Linked DNA regions of Homo sapiens: regions 1 and 3 are each linked to region 2. Evidence: fine-mapped expression QTL. A gene starts in region 2. Each other region holds a variant in brackets. All regions are shown on one strand. Distances are from middle to middle. Region 1 has its middle 4.6 kb from the start of LINC02577. Region 2 holds the start of CTB-30L5.1 (a long non-coding RNA gene). Region 3 overlaps LINC02577 (long intergenic non-protein coding RNA 2577).

What was found. PIP is the estimated chance that this variant, and not a neighbour inherited with it, causes the effect. A credible set is the group of variants that fine-mapping cannot tell apart.
Region 1: its variant is the best candidate, but not a certain one, in a credible set for the expression of CTB-30L5.1 in aorta (GTEx, PIP 0.57).
Region 3: its variant is the best candidate, but not a certain one, in a credible set for the expression of CTB-30L5.1 in adrenal gland (GTEx, PIP 0.89).

Annotation. Positions count from the first base shown.
Region 1 is chr7:106,767,234-106,773,621 of GRCh38, forward strand. No RefSeq gene overlaps it. Among named protein-coding and RNA genes, the nearest start is that of LINC02577, 4.6 kb to the right of the region's middle. The variant G/A (reference allele first, on the strand shown) is at 3,098.
Region 2 is chr7:106,595,956-106,602,343 of GRCh38, forward strand. CTB-30L5.1 (a long non-coding RNA gene) reads right to left here and starts at 2,892. Exons shown (of 4, transcript NR_187788.1): 1 at 2,799-2,892. RefSeq lists an enhancer at 3,001-3,050.
Region 3 is chr7:106,782,653-106,789,040 of GRCh38, forward strand. The region is part of intron 1 of LINC02577 (long intergenic non-protein coding RNA 2577); the gene reads left to right. Among named protein-coding and RNA genes, the nearest start is that of LINC02577, 11 kb to the left of the region's middle. The variant G/T (reference allele first, on the strand shown) is at 3,440.

The sequences.
Region 1 (6,388 bases), 170 kb after region 2:
TTAACCACAAAAGCCACAAGCTACATGGAGTTCTCAAGAAGGCAACTCTCTCCTTAGTACTTCTCGTTCACTCCGTAGTCAGAGCACACAGCTCAAGCCACTCCACAAGTCAGTCAACATTGCAAACCATATATAGTAGTATATTTCATCAACATATAAATGTTAAGATTAAACATTCCACACCAAAGTAATATTTAACATCAAGAGAAAGGGAATAGGAAAAAGGATTAATGAAGTAGTCCGAGGAAAGTGACGATGAAGACAGAAAGAATCTCCTGGTCTGTGCTCGGCGGTCCAGGAAAGGTCTTGAAAGGAAAAGTCTTTGATGTGGGCAGAGCCTTCAGCAGCAGATGCCAGGTGTTGATCACTAGTGACAGTAAGAGCATGTCAGTTAAGATGGCCGCTTTGAGCTGCTGAAGCCCTGCTCTTTTTACGACCACCAGAGGACTGATAGTGGAAGTGTGTGCTTGTTTATGCCCTTATCTGGTTGGATGCAGTCTTTATTTATTACAAATTTATTAAGCAAACATCGTATCCCTGTTGGCAAAATGTCCCGTGAAATGTAAGATGGAGTCTTTTTTTTAAGATGGAGTTACTTATGTCAAGGGTGCTCAATACAATAGCCTTTGTTGGGGCTTTATAACTTAAAATGTGCTTTCTCACATTTTCTTCAATCTCAGAGAAGACTTATCAGATGAATAATACATTATCATTATTTTATGGAAGTTATAAGTGATTAATTGACCATGCCCTGTTAAATTAAGTTTAGCCTAAAGCTGCCTCCTTACATATTTTTAAGTTGAGGCTAAAGGTTTCTCTGCACATAGTGAACTGTAACCTAACTGGATGTATCAACAGACTGTAACTTGCTCTTGTACCCATCACTGAGCTTCAGCCAATTGCAGATGGCCAACTGTTTAAACCACGTTCAAATAAGACAAACATCAAGCTGTAACAATCCAGCTGTTCCTATTCCTCACTTCTGTTTCACTTTCATTTTTCTGTTCATAAATCCTTTTCACGTGAGTCTGTCTGAATCTATTCTGGTTTGGGGATTGCCCAGTTCATGAAACATTCTTTGCTCAATTAAACTCTGTTAAATTTAGTTTGTCCAAAATTTTTCTTTTAGCAGCTGCAGATCGCCCAACTCATCGGTGGTAGGTCTAAGACTCGAGCATGGGTCTTTAAGCCTAAAGTCTATATTCTTGCCACATAGCCATGCTATCTTCTGATACATGTAGCAAAACTGCTACAGAATTGGCCACCTGGAACCAGTTAGTGGTATCCTGCTATTAACCACATGTATTGGTTACCTGATGCTGCCATAACAAATCACCACAAACTAGGTGGCTTAAAACAACAAAAAATTATTATCTCAGTGTTGGCAGCTAGTAGTCTGCAACTAAGGTGCTGGCAGGTTGATGTTTTCCTCTGACGCCTCTAGGGAACCTTCCTTGCCTCTTCCTAGCCTCTAGCAGTTGCTTGCCACCCTTGGTGCTCCCTGGCTTCTAGATGCATCACTGCAGTCTCCACCTACGATCTTCTCCCTGTCTGTGTCCCTGTGTCCCAATGCTCCTCTTTTTATAAGGATCCAGTTATATTGAATTTAGGGCCCATTCTAATCCAGTATGACCTCGTCTTAACTTGATTACATCTGCAAAGACTGTATTTTCAAATAAGGTCATATTCACAGGCTCCAGGTGAACATAAGCTGGGGAAAGGCACACATTCAACCCAGCGCACAGCAGACGGAGAGTTTGTTCTTGGTTTGGGTTACTGACAATTTTCCCTCAGCAGGTAAAGGAATACATTTAGGAAATTTTTGTCCTGGATTCCAACAAGAAAGAAGGAGGTGTCAAATGCAGAAACAAGCAAACCTTGGAATAAAATGGCCTTGATGTTTATAATAGTGAAAAAGGTAATGGTCAGACCTTCAGAAAGGGGGCTTCATAAAAAGTAAGGAAAATAATAGTGCCCAAGGGAATATGTTTAGAAGAGGAATGTAGACTCTGAAAACAGGATTACTTGAGCATTACAAAAATGATCCTGTTTAGGAGGAAAGATATGCTGTCTGGAAAGAAAATATAATAGAAATAATCTCAGATAATTGACCATAAACAAGCTTGTGCTGAAAACATAAACAGCAAGAATAGAATAATAGTCTAGGAGCACACAGTTCTCAGAGAGGAGGTAAAAGGAGGGTTAGATCTGGAGTAGTAAGACTCGAGGTTCCTATGGCTCAGAGGACGGATGGGGTGGACAGACCCAAGCATGCGATAAAAGAAAGGGAAAATTTGTTTAGAGTATTATGAGAATAAAGTCTTAAAATAAAGTAGGGGCGGAGATAAATACTAAAGACAGCAAGAAAGCTGTTTTTCTTTTTAATCTCCGTAGCCAAGAAAAGATCTGGGAAGAAAAACCTATGCTGTATCTCAGACAATATCACCTTAGGCCAAGCATGGTGGCTGACACCTGTAATCCTAATGCTTTGGGAGGCCAAGGCAGGAGGATCACTTGAGCCCAGGAGGACCTCTTGCCCACCAGCCTGGGCAACAAAGTGAGACTCCATCTCTACAAAACTTTGTAAAAAATTAGCCAGGTGTGGTAGCACACGCCTGTGTTCCCAGCTACTCGGGGCTGAGGTGGGAGGATCACTTGAGCCCAGAAAGTAAACCCTCACTAGCCATGTTCACTCCACTGCACTCCAGCCTGGGCCACAGAGCAAGACCTTGTCTCAAAAAAAAAAAAAAAAATTACAATATAACCTTAACAAATGATAACATAATCAAAGAACCATTCAATTTTCTGCTTCCTTCCATATTCTAAGAGAGATGAACATCAATTTTGAAGCAAACATTATGAAGAGAGAATTAAAACCTACAATAGAAAAAGAGATAGTAAGAGAAATCTTCACTTACTCTGAATGACTTCAAAACTTCTGTTAATACAAATTCTATCCCAAAGTATCAAAAGAGTTTGCAGATGAGATCAGAGAACTGCTCCTGAGAATCAAGGAGAATGGAAAAGGTGACTAATGGCTGGAAAATGTTTCTACTTCTAAAAATAGTGAAAGAATGAGATCTGTATGTAAACTGAT[G/A]AGCCTCATGCAGACGCCAAACAAAATTCTAAAATGGATGATTTGTAGGCAAGATACAGTAAACAAATACTAACCAGTGTGAATTCACTAAGAACAAGTCATGCCAACCAGTCTCACTTCTTTTCTTAGATTTGGTTGCCTGTGTGTCAGGAGGAAGGCATGCACATGGTATGCCTTGGTTTTAGCATAGCATTTGCCAAATATCGTGATGCACACCTTTTGTTGTTAAGATGGAGGAATGAGGGCCCAGGTAACAGCAAGATGACTGGTGGTTTGCTGCATAGTTAGGCATTCAATGTCACCCAAAGAATATTGGCCAAAGACTTGACTTCCACCTTAAAAGGCAAACTCCAAGAATTTATGATTTGCTCATTTCTGTTCAATATTTTTGTCAAAAACATGAAAACCACAGAATGCATGTTTATGAATATTTCAATTTAAAAATTAGGGAGACAGAGCTAATACACGAGGAGACAATTCAAAACTATTTCTTCATATAGAAATCAGGCCCAAAACAAAGAAAATACAAATTATTTGGGATAAACATAAGGCCAAAAAAAAAGAGAGAGACAGAGAGACTAATAATACCAATAGCTTACATTTATTGAACAGTTACTATGCATTATATAGTCACATGCCATATATACATATGTTTTGAGACTGGATCTTGCTCTGTTGCCCAGGCTGGAGTGCAATGGCACAATCTTAGCTCACTGCAACCTCCCCGTCCCAGGCTCAAGCAGTCCTCCCACCTCAGCCTCCCGATAGCTAAGACTACAGGCACGTCACCATGTTTGGCTAATTTATATATATTTCATAAAGATGGGGCTTCATCATGTTGCCCAGGCATTATATTTTTTAACCTCATAACCACCACATTATCATTAGAATTATTGCTTTTAAAATTTATCAGCGAGGAAGCTAAGCCTGAGGGGCTAAGTAATTTCTGCAATTTATAGTTAGTAAGTGGCCAAGACTTAAATCCAGGTGTGCCTAAATTCAGGGCTTATGGTTTTAGCAACTTTACTAGTCTCATCAATGCAGGAATGGAGGTTACTTGGCATTAACTTATTTTGAGTTTTAATTGAAAACACCCAGATAAAAGTGTTAATATTGCACAGTAGCCACTTAATAATGCTATCTTCTTTCTTACTACAACATTGAAAATTTAGGAGAAACTTGATAGTTGAATTCAAATAATTTAAGAATTGATAAAATCTATGTAACTCAAAACAAAAAAAACTAAGATTACAGTTAAAAATTACACTGTGATATATATATATCATATATATATGATGGAATATAGGCAATGACTTATTTATGTTAAAAGATGGAAGAAACATAGATCAGTGTAGTTAAAGCCCAGTGTAGTTCAACCATATATATATGATATATATATGATGGAATATATATATATATATATCATATATACATAATGGAATTATATACATGATATATATCACATATATATGATGGAATATATATATATATATATATATATATATATATATATATATATATATATATCTCGCAGTTTCTTTATCCACTAATTGATTGATTGGCATTTGGGTTGGTTCCATGATACATATATCATATATACATGACGGAATATATATATCATATAATATATATAATATATATATCATATGATATATATATACATATATTATATATATCATATGATATATATAATACATATATTATATATATATCATATGATATATATAATACATATATTATATATATATCATATAATATATATAATACATATATTATATATATATCATATAATATATATAATACATATATTATATATATCATATAATATATATAATACATATATTATATATATATCATATAATATATATAATATATATATTATATATATATGATGGAACACTACTCAGCCATAAAAAGGAATGAATTAATGACATTCACAGCGACCTGGATGAGATTGGAAACTATTATTCTAAGTGAATTAACTCACGAATGGAAAACCAAACATGGTATGTTCTCACTTATATGCGGGAGCTAAGCTATGAGGACACAAAGACATAAGAATGATACAATGGACTTTTGGGACTTGGAGGGAAGGGTGGGAGCCTGGTGAGGGATAAAAGACTACAAATAGGGTGCAGTATATAGTGCTCAGGTGATGGGCACACCAAAATCTCACAAATCACCACTGAAGAACTTAACTCATGTAACCAAATACCACCTGTACCCCAATAACCTATAGAAAAATAAAATAAAAATGAATGACAAAAAAATTACACTGAGATAAATTTTTGTTCAATAACATGAACATTTTTCTATATTGTGGCTTTCCAACCACGGAATAAACTACCTTGCACAGGAATAAGTTCTGTATCAGCATTTCTATGAGTGGGTAGTTGAACTGAGAGGAGAAATCTCTAGGTGATTTCTCAGTCTTCTAAATCTAAGGTTCAATAAAGAAAACAGTTTAAAGGTTAAGTGGTGCAAAAAGGAATTCCTGAGAATCACTGACTCATAACTGCAAGGAAACTTGTAGTCATCAGCAACATAAGTTAAACAAGTTGTGGTCTAAAGCCTAAGTCTCCTATTTTAATTCTTTTAGGAAGGTAAGAAACCCTCGGAACACTCCACTTATTCTATTTTATTTATCCTCAGAGTGTTTATTGAAGGTACAGCAGTCATCAACATCCCCGTTTTGTTGACTGGAAAATGAAGCAATTCCACAGCCAATGAATGGCAGGGCAAGATGGGAGGTCAGTTCCTGTAGACATCTGGTAATCTTTCCATGACATTACTGTTTTCATCTCAATAGATGATCCCAAGGCTTTTTTTAAAATTAAATATATTTTTAAAGTAATTTTAATTCTCTCATTCATATATATATACACATATATGTAATTTACCACTTGTGAAACACTTAATCACATGATTTTGATCTACATCCATATGGTTCTATGCAAATTCCTTACCAGCTAGTAATTAAGAACCCTGGTTAAATGTAACACTTGTAAAAGCAGTCCTGGAATTTTGGTGCTGGCCTGGCATGGTATAATAAAGGTGCTCATTCCTGGAATGCAGGGTCAAATTCCAGCCTGGCTCTGCCACTGACAAGTCATGGGACCTTGGGCAAGTCAAGCAACCACTGTGCACCTCAATTTCTTGGTTTCTAACATTTGTGAAGGGCTTGAACTACACTGATCTATGTTTCTTCCATCTTTTAACATAAGTAAGTCATTGCCTATTGAGAACTCATGCCTATCAGTTTACTTGTGATGGTCATTTCGTCTTTCACAG
Region 2 (6,388 bases):
AGGTGAGGTTAGATGATTTTCATTCATTTTTCTGATCCAGTTGTGGAACACAAACTCACAAAGTCACAATTGATAGTTCTTCCCTATACAAACAAGAAGTAATCAGAAAACATAATAAAAGAATTGGTGCTATTTACCATAAAAGAAGAAGAGGAAAAGGAAGAGGAAGAAGAGGAGGAGGAAAAAGGGAAGAAGGGAAGGAAGAAAAAGAAAGGATGGGAAGGAAGGAGAGAGGGAGTAAACTTAAGAAATGTGCAGTAACTACACAAAAAAAAGACTTTCAAAAAACTTTCCGAGAGACATTTTAAAACAAAATCAGCTTGAATACAAATGAAGAGCATTTTTAATTGAAATAGGAAAAGCTAATATGGTAAGACTGTCAATTCTTTCTAAATGAATATGTAAATTTGTTGCAACCCCAATAAAATATTAATTGATTTTTTAAATATAAGAGCAGCTGGTTCTAAGACTTTTGTATAAATATCAAAATTCAAGCTTAGCCAGAAAAAAAATCTACAAAGGAAGCATAATGAATTAGGCAAGCCCTATTAGATAATAAAACATATTATAAAGCATTTGTGATTAAGCTAGATGAATGAATTGATAGAGAATCCAGAACTAGACTCAAACACATATGCAAATTCAGTTATGACAAAGGTGACATTTAGAAGCAAATGCATTCTTCAAATGATAGTGATTCTATTCATAAAGTTATAACACTTTTTTCTTACCAATGTTTTATTATTATAATATTATACATTTATTATAGTTACATTTATTATAAATATTATGCACTTTTTAATATAAATGAATCTGTAAAGTCCTAGGAAAAAAATAAAGGAATTATTTTATATTCTGGATTGGGGAAAAGCCCTTTTAATATTTACTAAGTACTTGTTGCCAAGCAATTTTTAAGCACTTTACATATATTTATTTATTTAATTCCCACACAATGTTATAATCCCCACTTTACAGATGAGAAACTAAAGCACAAAAAGGCGAAGTGAACTTGGCGCTTGGACCAATAGTTCAAAAGCGGCAGAGTGGAAGTACAAAGCCAAATGGTTTTACTCTAGAGCTTGTGTTCTCATAAACTACCTGGAAAAAAGACAAAGATGAAGGCCAGTGGCAGGTCCTGGTGCAGCTTGCTGGGCTCCATCCCTCCTTGGCTGTGAAGCATAGGTAGTCCCTGACTGTCATGTCCACAGATGGGTCATTGTTAGCACAGGTATGACATACTGTGGCATTATTATTTATCCTGTGAACGAATAGCAAGGTGGCCCTGCTGGCAGGAGAAGAAATTGTGTACTACCTGGACGTGAGAACCAGGTGATATGATGTGTGAAAGGCAGTTTTGCAAACTGGTTAAGTAATTATGCTAGACCTGGCAAGACCTTACTCTAGAAACACAAGATATGATCACAAACAACCCATGTGTTTCCCACAAAGAAGAGAAAGCTGAAGAGGCAAACTCAGCAAACTTCTGCATGCCCGATGGCCAGGGCGTACTGGCATACTTGTTTAAAATATACCTATTGTGCGGATCAGTAAGCTATAACTTCTGCAGGATTTATATGTCAGATAGCTCATTTTTGTCAACCCTCCAACCAAGCTTTCTGAAGAATTACTTCAACTCGTTCTTCACTGTCTACTCCAAATTAAATTCCAAATGGAAAAATATTTTGATATAAACCAATCTATAAACTTCCAGAAAAAAACATGGGGAATTATTTTTATACTCCAGAGTGAGAAAGACCTTTCTCATTAAGCTCAGATGTTATAATGAAAAAGAAGGATCATTTTTACTATGTTAAAATTTATGTATGGAAAAAATAATGTCAAAGACAAATAAAAACTTGGGAAAATATTTGCCCCACCCATAGCATGCAAAAGGCTAATTTTCATTATACATTCGAGAGTTATTTCAAAAAAAAATCATGAACAGAGCACACAAACAGAAAATTCACCAGAAAATAAATATAAATGGCATAAAAATATAAAAAGATATTCAACCTTAAAATTTTAGATGGTAATTTAAAATAAAATGAAATATCACTATTCATTTACTGGACAAAAATCTTTGCTAATGCACAGTATTGATGAAAGGAGAGAAAGAGACACTTCCAGACAGTGAATAGACAAATTGGTACATCTTCTTTGGAGGACAATTAAAAATGATACTAGTAATAATAATATAAATAGCTTACTTTTTTTGAGTATCAGCTATGTCAGATAGACGTTCTATGTGTTTCAGATATTCTAACTCATTTACTCCTCATAACAACCAAATGAGGTAGTTTCTATCACTATCACTATGAGAACACTAAGGCACAAAATGATTAAGAAACTTGTTCAAGATCACATGTCTAGTAAATGGAGAAGCTGAGATTCAAACCCAGAAAGTCTGGAAAATTCAACTTAAAACACCACACCACCACACACACACGCACACATGTTAACTACGGGTTGTAATAGATGTGTTAATTAATTTGACTGTAGTAATCGTAGTAATCAGTATCCAGTGTACATATATGTGTATCACATCAACATGTTGTACACCTTGAATATATATATACTTTTTATCTGTCAATTAGATATTTTTAAATTAAATAAACCAAGCTTGACAACACCCATAAAAATTCAAAAATTTTATACCCATTATATTCATTAGGATTAGATTTAGGTACTTGACATAGAAAAGAAAATAACTGTTGCTTAAACGAGGTAAAAGTTAATTTCTCTCCCAAATAAATAAAATCTGGAGGTATATAGCTTAGAACTGGCAGGGCAGCTCTTACCCTATAAAGTCCTCAAGAACCTGGCTCCTTCCAGCTCCCCACTCACCACCAAAAGGGTGTGGCCCTAGGCAGCATGTGAAGTACAAAAACGAATAAAGAATAGAGGACAGAAGGCACTTGTCATCTGTCTCTCAGAGAAGTTTTTCAGAAGCTGTCACGCGACACTTCCCGTTCCACTGCTCTAGCTGCAAAGGAGGCTGGGAAATGTAGTCTTAATTCTGGGCCGCCATTTGCACAGCTTTGCATTGTATTACCATGGAAGAGGAGGAGAAGGGAGATTGAGGGACATGTGGCCAGCTCTTTCCTTCCTGCTGACACCACAATTCAACTTCTAGGAAAATTTCTACTAGATTAATGGCACATTTGTGTAACAACATATTACACTGATTATTCCCCATTTATCCTTCCTCTCCCTGCCTACCCTGTACCTTGCAGACTGACCTCCATGGACTGCATCACCTGGGCTTCCCCAACCTCTGACTTCCACTTCTATTCAGCAGCTGGAAGAACCAGCAGAAAACCAGAGAGCAAAAGGAGATAGCAGTCAGGGTATTTATTCCTCTTGCTCCTACTCTGATGGCTGCAGTTTGGCTACTGGCTCCATTCCTCACCATGTGGCTGTAGCTCCGTTTGGCTGGCCTCTCTCCCACAGCCATGGTCTCACTGGCTTCTAGTAACACTGCTCCCTCCCCTTATCCCTTCATGCCTGGGGTGGTGAAGGCTTGTCACTGTTGGGAGTTCCTGAATGTTTAGCCATTTATTGCTGGTTCTATTCATCCTGCCAGCACCTGTGTAAATAGTACCTCCATGACTAAACTCGTCAGGTAAGCTTGGGATGTGCCATCTGCTTCTGCTGGACCCTGATTCATACACATACGTGCAAGGACTTTCATTACAGCAGTGCTTGAAATAGTAATAGACCAAAACAAATTAAATATTTATCAATAGGGAACTGATTAAATATCATGCAGTTATAGTAGTAATATAATGTAGCAGTTTAATAAATAATGGTGCACTATCATGTACACTTAAAAATTTGCTAAGAAGGTAGACCTCAAGTTATGTGTTCCTACTGCACTAAAATAATAATAATGTCTTTATGAGCTAAAATAGAGAGCTCTTGATGATAGGATGCTACCAACTGTATATTAAAATATAGATATAGATGTACAGTTAGGTTTGGATTTAGATATATTTGCATGGTGTGTTATAAATGTATATGTAATATGCATTTCTATACTTAAAGGTTTTTAAGGAAAAGACTAGAAACTGAGACTGGTGGTCACCTCTGGGAAAGAATAATGGAGAATAGGGTAGGAAAGAGCTTTACTTTCATTGAATATCCTTTTATACTATATGAATTTTTACTACATATATATTACCTTAAAAAACTATTTAGAGAAAAAAATATTAATTTTCCTTAGGATACATATAATAGGGAAGCATACGAATAAGATAGTAGCATTCCTTTGAGATTCCATTACTATAAATCGGATTCCAATTTTCTCTCCCCACCACTGTCTGCCCTCTCGTAAACCCTCCTCCCATACGGGGGCACACCAAGGGCCCTCGCTTCTAATGAAGGGCAGTACCTCATCCCCTGGATCTACTGTGGTCCTTACTGTGCTCTCCCTATGCATTGGTGTCAATTAAGGGAGTACATGTTCTGTTCCAAAGCTGTAGGAAGTGCTAGAAACCAGGAAAATGAATGATCCCTGTCCTCAGAGAGATTATTTCCTATGGAGGGACATAAAAATGTAAGAGGTGTCAACAGGAGTGAATATAGAAATTGGAGACAGGGCACAGAGACGGTGTGGTCGATTGTAATCAGGGACTAAAATGCAGAACTGGAAGGATTTCCTGAGAGGTGAGAGAGGAATGTGGTGGCAATGGTAATAAAAGGAGAATGGGGTGCCCTCTGAAGACAAGCAAAATAGAGGGCATTTGAAGTAGCAGAAACAATGTAACTTGAAGCAGGACACTTAAGATAATTTAAGACTACTGATGGCAGATTAAAACGGGGAGCCAATCAGCTGAAGGTCATTGGTGTCATCATCATCCTGGAGAGAATCAAAAGGGAAGGGTAGAAGAATGGGTTAAGAATGTCTATTACAGTCATTATTCAGGAAAGAAAAATAAAGACTAGCTAAATGTTTGATTACTACTTTAGACTGCATTAAAATATGAGCATATTAAGATGTTGCATCAAAATGTTCTTGTGCCTTTTGAGGGGAAGACACATAGGCAAGAAATAATAGAGCACACTGGGGAAATTGCTGATAGTTCTTGAGGCATGACAAATAGCAAGGGAATAATAAGGCTGCAGAGGTGGGGGCAGTGGCTGTATGATAAAAGTCTTTTCTATCATCCTGGAACAGCCAGTATTTGGCTGGGCAGTGATGTAATCAGTTGTGCATGTTAGAGAGATTACTAGGAGTATGGAAGTGAGGCCAATTAGGAGACGGTGGCACTAATCCTGAGTGAAGGTGGAGAAAGGATAGGCACACAAGAAATGTTGATGCAGTAGAATCAGCAGAAGTTAGTTATTAGTTGAAGGACAGAGGTGAGGAAACAGGAGGAATTGAAGAAATCTATATTTCTAGTGACCAGATTGGTAGGGGTGCCATATACTTGGATAAAGAATAAAGGACGAAAAAGCCTGGGGAGAATGTGTGGAGCTTGAGGTTACTTGTGAGTTCCAACTTCATGATTTCACTTATAATCTCTTCCTATACTCAATCTCTCTTTTCTCTGCTCTTCAATCCTCAAGTCTCCCGTCTCCTTCTTACCACAATTTTGCCTAATTAATGCCTACTCCCTCTTTAAGAATTAGCTCAAGCAACCTTCCATCCAGAAAGTCCCTCATGACATTTTGTCTTCTTCCAATGAAGGCTGAGTTAGGTGGCTTTTCCTCCCACAGTCTGGTAATGTTCTGTGTTTATTTCTATCATTATACCTTAATGCACGTCAAATTATTTTTCCTTTACAGATCAGTTTCCCCTACATGATGTTAAGCTCCTTATGGGTAGGATCTACGTCTTCCTCTCTAGTTTCCCCAGCATATAGCACAGTGTTTATTAGGATGTGATAGGCACTCAGTGATTGTTGAATGAATGAATAAGTTTTGAGTGGGAGAAGAAACACTTCTTTTTCTTAGACTTAGGTAGAACCATTGGACGGTGTCAAAAGTTGTAGTTATTAAGGGCTAAGTGAGAGTTTGAAGGTATCTGCAGTCTAAGTCTCATCTAGGAAGTAAGAGTCATTCCCCAAGAGAAAGGTGGGTTGAGGACAGTGATGGGCATTTGGAATTGCTGCTGTGGAGAGTGAAAAGGGGAGGAGCCCAAAAGGTCTGGTTGACATTGGCAATAATAAAATTATAATGGCAGTGACCCCAGTGTCTGTATGATTCCCTCTAGCAGTTCAGTGGGCTGAGTGTGAACAAGGAGGGGGTTGACAGTGGAACTCATCAAGATCCACAAGGCGGATTCAGCAGAGGACAAAGAAGCTCTGACACAGAGTGACAAATGGGTATAGATTGGATTAGGAAGAGAGGTGGAGCCACAAGAGACAAGACTGAGAGAAATGAGAGT
Region 3 (6,388 bases), 190 kb after region 2:
AGCTAAATAAGTGGTCTTTGAACTAATTCCTCTCGTACTTCCTAAAGGAACTTTGAAAAACTATGTATCCCCTTGCACATTTTCAAGCAGACACCTAAGATTTTTCATCATAAATTTGAATAACTTCAAAATATGTACTTATTAGCATATTGTAAATATTGATTTTTAAATAAAATATATCACACTTTGTATCCAATGAACTCTAAACACCATAGCAATTTGACACTTACTCTCCCACCCTCAGTCTTAAAAATTCACCAACAACCTCTTTTTTAACAACCGAAAAATTTGTATTATTCCTTTTTAAAATTTTGAAGTTTTCTGGATTGAATTATTTTTATAATGATTTTTAGTATACAACTGACCAAAGCAACATAAATATATAGCATATTTTGATAAATAATTATAAAACATAGCAAGTTATGTGTTATTGGAAAATTAAACTAAATGAATGGATCTTTTTAAATTAGTTCGGGTATCTGTGGCTGTTCCTAACTGTTAAAATGAGACAGAGTCAGCGTCAATTCTACTCTTATTTTTTATTTTTTTAGACGTAAGCCCTGAGAAAACTTGTTCAATTAAATAAGTAATGAGAATGTTAGGCATTTTCTGATAAAAATGTCACTCTGTTATTTGAATGCCTTCTTGATTATAAGTCAAAAAGTACATAGTGATCTATTATCAAAAACTATTGGCCTATCTGTTGACAACTTGGGTAGGTCCTCCTTTAATTTTATTGAAAGCAAAGAATTGGAAACTACCTAATTTACAAAAAAAAGAAGAAGAAGAAGAAGAAGAAGAAATGTGTTACCTAATTATTAGAGCTCACTTTCTAAGTTTCTAGGAAGTATGACCCAAAAAAGCTTGGCCAAGACTTATCACATGGCTGTTGATTATACCATCACCCTTTTACTTACAGGCGTCTTGCTTATGGACCTAAAAAAGATGAAACTGGAGTTAGAAACAAAAACAGAAAATTGTAAATTGTGCATTTGGGGACTTTTCTCCTTGACTGTGAACAGAGACCTATATACAATGCCAAATTTCATTTTTTAAGAATGTCTCAAAATGCAGAGTAAAGAAATGACAGAAGGACAGACACTTGGGGATATTCATGTATATACTAATAACTTCTTCCCAAATATGACTGAAGACAATACACTTAGCAGAACTGAAATCAATATATTAACATCTGAAAGGGAGAAATTAATCCTAATTCAATCAAGCCAGTTTTCTAAAGTTCAGGTCATTGCATATTAGATTTACATTTTGGAAAAATTTTTTTTGCTTTTGAACCAATAGATTTCTGCTTTTGACAGTATAGTTTAAATACTTTATGTAAGTTGACAGCAAGAGAAAGAACTTAGTCACCAATAAGTATAGTACAAGATTATGGAAAGCACATTAAGGACCTCTAAGCACATTAGTTAGAGTATAATCTGCAATATATTCCTGTTAAATTACTTAATGCTAATTCTGTGGACTGAATTTCATTCCCCCAAAATTTATATTTTGAAGGCTTAACCCTTAATGTGACTATATTTGGAAATAGTGCCTGTGAAGAGGTGATAAAGGTTAAATGAGGTCACAGGCTGGGGTCCTACTTCACTAGGACTGGTGTCCTTTAAAGAAGAGGACAAGATGCCAGATGCTCTCGTTCATGTGCCCCCTTTCTCTCTCTCTCTCTCTCGCTGGTTCACTCTCTCTCTCTCTCCTCCTGCCCCCCATGTGAGGATATAAGGAGAAGGCAGCCATCTGCCAGCCAGGAAGAGAGCCCACACCAGAACTTGACCATGCTGACACCCTAATCTTGGATTTCTAGCCTCCAGAGTTATGAGAAAATAAATTTCTGTTATTTAAACCACCTGGTGCATGGTATTTTGTTATGGCAACACAAGCTGACTTATATACCTAATAACTACATGGCAGGAATTAATACATGAACGGGAAAGTTGTTCATGAGTGACAGTGAGCAGGAGACCTGTACCTTCATCAGAAATGAATATAGATTTCATATTTTGCTAACTTTTAGCAAAAATTAATGAAAGTGTTTCTCCTATAAATCTGAGTAAATATTTAAGAAAATACAAAATACTAACTTACCTCTAATATGTGTTTCTTTTGTTAGAAAATGTAGCCTTGATATGTTGGAAGAAACTGTAGTCTTTTCACCTTGAAGTTATGCAAATTACACTCCTGAGACATAGAGTAAAATGCAGCTAAATGAGAGTATTCACAGAGCTTGCTCTCATTACTGAGATGGTGAAATTGCAGAGAAAATGTGGTTCATAGCTCACTGGCATTTCCCAGTACACTTCTTACAAATCTTGAATATTTCAAGATAGACAGAGACCTCCCATGAGTTTGCCACCTGGATGAATAACTTACTGCCATCTTCAATATTTCTTTTTTCTTTTTCTTTTTTTTTTTTTTTTGAGATGGAGTCTCGCTCTGTCACCCAGGCTGGAGTGCAGTGGCGCGGTCTCAACTCACTGCAACCTCCGTCTCCCAGGTTCACGCCATTCTCCTGCCTCAGCCTCCTGAGCAGCTGGGACTACAGGCACTCGCCACCACACCCAGCTAATTTTTTGTATTTTTAGTAGAGATGGGGTTTCACCGTGTTAGCCAGGATGGTCTCGATCTCCTGACCTCGTGATCCGCCCGTCTCGGCCTCCCAAAGTGCTGGGATTACAGGCGTGAGCCACCGCGCCCGGCCAATATTTCTAAGAGATGTTCTCTTTGTTTTTTTCTTTGTTTTTTTTTTTTTTTTTTTTTTTGAGATGGAGTCTTACTCTGTCACCGAGGTTGAAGTACAGTGGTGTGATCTCGGCTCACTGCAACCTCCACCTCCTGGGTTCAAGCGATTCTCCTGCTTCAGCCTCCTGAGTAGCTGGGATTATGGGGTCCCACCACTATGCCCGGCTAATTTTTGTATTTTTAGTAGAGACTGGGTTTCGCCATGTTGGCCAGGCTGATCTCGAGCTCCTGACCTCAAGTGATCTGCCCGCCTTGGCCTGCCAAAGTGCTGGGATTACAGGCGTGAGCCACTGTGCCCAGCCTGCTTTATTCTCAAGTCTCTTTCCTCAGGAACAATGCCTTCTTTGCCAGTAGTGAAGACAGGAGGAAAATGCCATCACTTCTCCTGCCTAATTCCATGATACTCCTGAAGTCCAAACACCCCGACATGGGTGAGCATACCTGCTTAAGGTATGCTTTGCCCCTAAAAGAGATAAGCATAAGACAGAGAAAGATAATATGCCCTGCACCTTTGGTTTATGCTGGTTTGATTAAAGGAAAATACCCATAGTATTTCCTTCAACAGAGTATTTCCTTTGAGAGTCTCTCTCTCTCTCAAATACCCATAGTTTGACTTTCCTCAGCTTGGTGTCCCAGAGGTTTGTATACCCAGGGCAATTAAGGTACCACAGCATAATTTGAG[G/T]TGGATGAAAAATATGTCACTTTTTTGTAGGGCAGAAGAAAAGGAGCTATAAAAGAAAAGGTGGATAAGGAGAAGCAGCTTGATTCAGGGGCACTTTTGAGCAAATATAGAAATATATATATATAGAGAGAGAGAGAGAGAGAGAGGGAGAGAGAAAGAATTTGGAAATTGATTCTGAGTCTGCATAGCTCTTGGGATGTCCTCATGTACCCCTAAAGCTATGCAAATCTCAATTTGAATTAAATATTTCTACCATTGCTAATAATTATCATTGCAATGTACTGGGAACCTATTTTAAACCAGGTAGTATATTAAGTTTCTCATATATATATATATATATATATATATATATATATATATACACACATATATATATACACATGTATATATACATATATATATATGGAGAGACAACATGTGCTCATTTAAATTGTACTTCTCATATGATAGTCATTATTAACCCCATTTTAAAGGTGAATAAATTGGGACTCAGAGAAAAGTAATTTGCCCAGGATCCCACGGCTAGTAAATGCCACAGCCAAATTCAACCCTAGCTCCATTTGATTGGAGAGCCTGTGCTCTGCAGTTCACCCTACGTGGCCTTGTTTCTGTGTTCTCAACTGGCAGCAGCTGAATATCTCTGCCTTCTAGAGAACCAGTGCTTAAAAAGTAATAAGTCTCTAATGGTGGATTTCAGGATTATGTGGCAGACTTTTGAAAGGTATTTTCATCAAGACACTCTTCCTAGTGCCTCCTGAAATCATGAAAATACATTTTTTCTCTCTTTTTCTGATACACACATCACTCTGTTTCTTAATGAGGTTACAGAGGTGGGGAGAATCAAGTATGAATAGCAAATAAGCATTCAAATTAAGAAAACTTGAAATTATTCCAGGGTCTCTATTTAGTTCACTGTTAGAAATCCTAACTGTGTTTTCATACTTAATTTAAAGACGTTGTGGTCACTAGTTCTTTTTTTTCCTTAAAATATCCCCCAAAGGATTCTTTAATTCTCAATTTTTGACCTAAGCCCATGAACCCAATCCCTTTAGTGATTAACCACACAGTTAAAAATTAAAGGTAATGATGATCATAAATGACCATTAATTCTTTAATTCTCAATTTTTGACCTAAGTCCATGAACCCAATCCCTTTAGTGAATAACCACATAGTTAAAAATTAAAGGGAATGATGACCATAATAGCAAACCATAAAGAATATCCTACTATTCTCTGCAAAAATATAGACAAATTATGGTAATTAAAAAATAGCCCCCTTTCAACCTATTTCACACATATGTACACACACAATTTTCAGTGGAACTGTGAGTAAAGTGAATCTACACTTATATTTCATTATGGAGCTTAAACTAATATTTATCTATTCTTTAAGACAAATTAAAGCTTGTATTTTTGGGTGGGTTCAGCTAAATAGTAGTTTGGACAGTAGTCCTTGGTCTGGGGCTCATGTATTTTTCAGACGTAAAGACACCTAAGAAGTTACAAGAGCACAGGGTGAATAAACAACATCAGTTTCCTAGAGTGCAGATTTAGGAGAGGAGAGAAAGCTTAATGATCTAGACTAGAAAAGCAGCTCCCAAGACAAAAGAGCACCTCTGTTGGAGCCAGCCACACTGCATTTTGAGACGCAGCTCAAAAAGGTGGAGAGGGGAACGGGAAAATCTAAGGAATTTTGTAAGGTGAGGGAGTCGGACAGAGAAATTAATTATGCTAGTTTTTAAGGGTATATTTGGTCCTCAATGAAATACTAATGTCATATGTTTATGTTTTGCTTAAAGAACTTTTACATAAATGTATTATTCATAACGGCCTGTGGGGTTTGTGGGGAAGGCACTATTTTTGTTAAGTGGCAGAAAAGAAAATGCAGGCACAGAGAGGCTGGGCGAATTGTCCATTGTCCCATAGCTGGTTCCTTGGCAGAGTAATGATCAGACAGACCCCAATCCAAGGGAGTCCCACCTCTTGCTAGCAGTCAGAGGCACTCTTTTTTAATTTGCCAAATTGTTCTAAAACTAAATATACAAGTACCATATAATCCAATAATTGCACTCTCGAGTACTTATCTCAAAGCTTTGAAAACTTACGTTCACCAAAGACCTGTATATGAATGTTCATGATGTCTTTATTCGTAATAAACAAAAGCAACCGAAATATTCTTCGGCAGGTGAATGGTTAAACACGCTGTAGTCTATCCATACACCATACACTGGAATACTTTTCAGCAGTAAAAAGGAACAAACTATTGATAAATGCAGCAACTTAGATAGCTCTTAAGGGAATTATGCTGAGTGAAAAGAGCCAAACTGTTTTTATTTTATTTTTTTTTTCTGGAGAAAGGGTCTTGCTCTGGTGCCCAGGCTGGAGTGCAGTGACGTGATCAGCCTCAAACTCCTGGGCTCAGGTGATCCTCCCACCTCAGCCTCCCAAAGTGCTAGGATTATAGGAATAAGCCACCACACCTAGCCTAAAAGAGCCAATATTAAAAAGTTATATACTATATGATTTCATTTATATAACATTCTTGAAATGAAAAATTCTAAAGATGGAGAACAGATTACTGATTGTTCATCAGGGTAGGAGTGGATGTAGGATAGCGACACAGCCTTAGTGATGGAACAGTTCTATATTTTGATTATAGTGGTGGTTACATGAACCTATACATTACAAAAGCTGCACAGAACTATACATACACACACATGCAAGAACACATCAAACAGGTGAAATGTGAATAAGCTCTGTGGATTGGCCTAATGCCAATTTCCTGGTTTTGGTGTTGTGCTATAGTTAGGCAGGATGTTATCACTGGGGGAAACAGAGTGAACATATATATATATATAAATATATATATATATACACACACACACACACACACACACATATATACATATATATATACACATATATATATGTGTGTATATATAGATATACA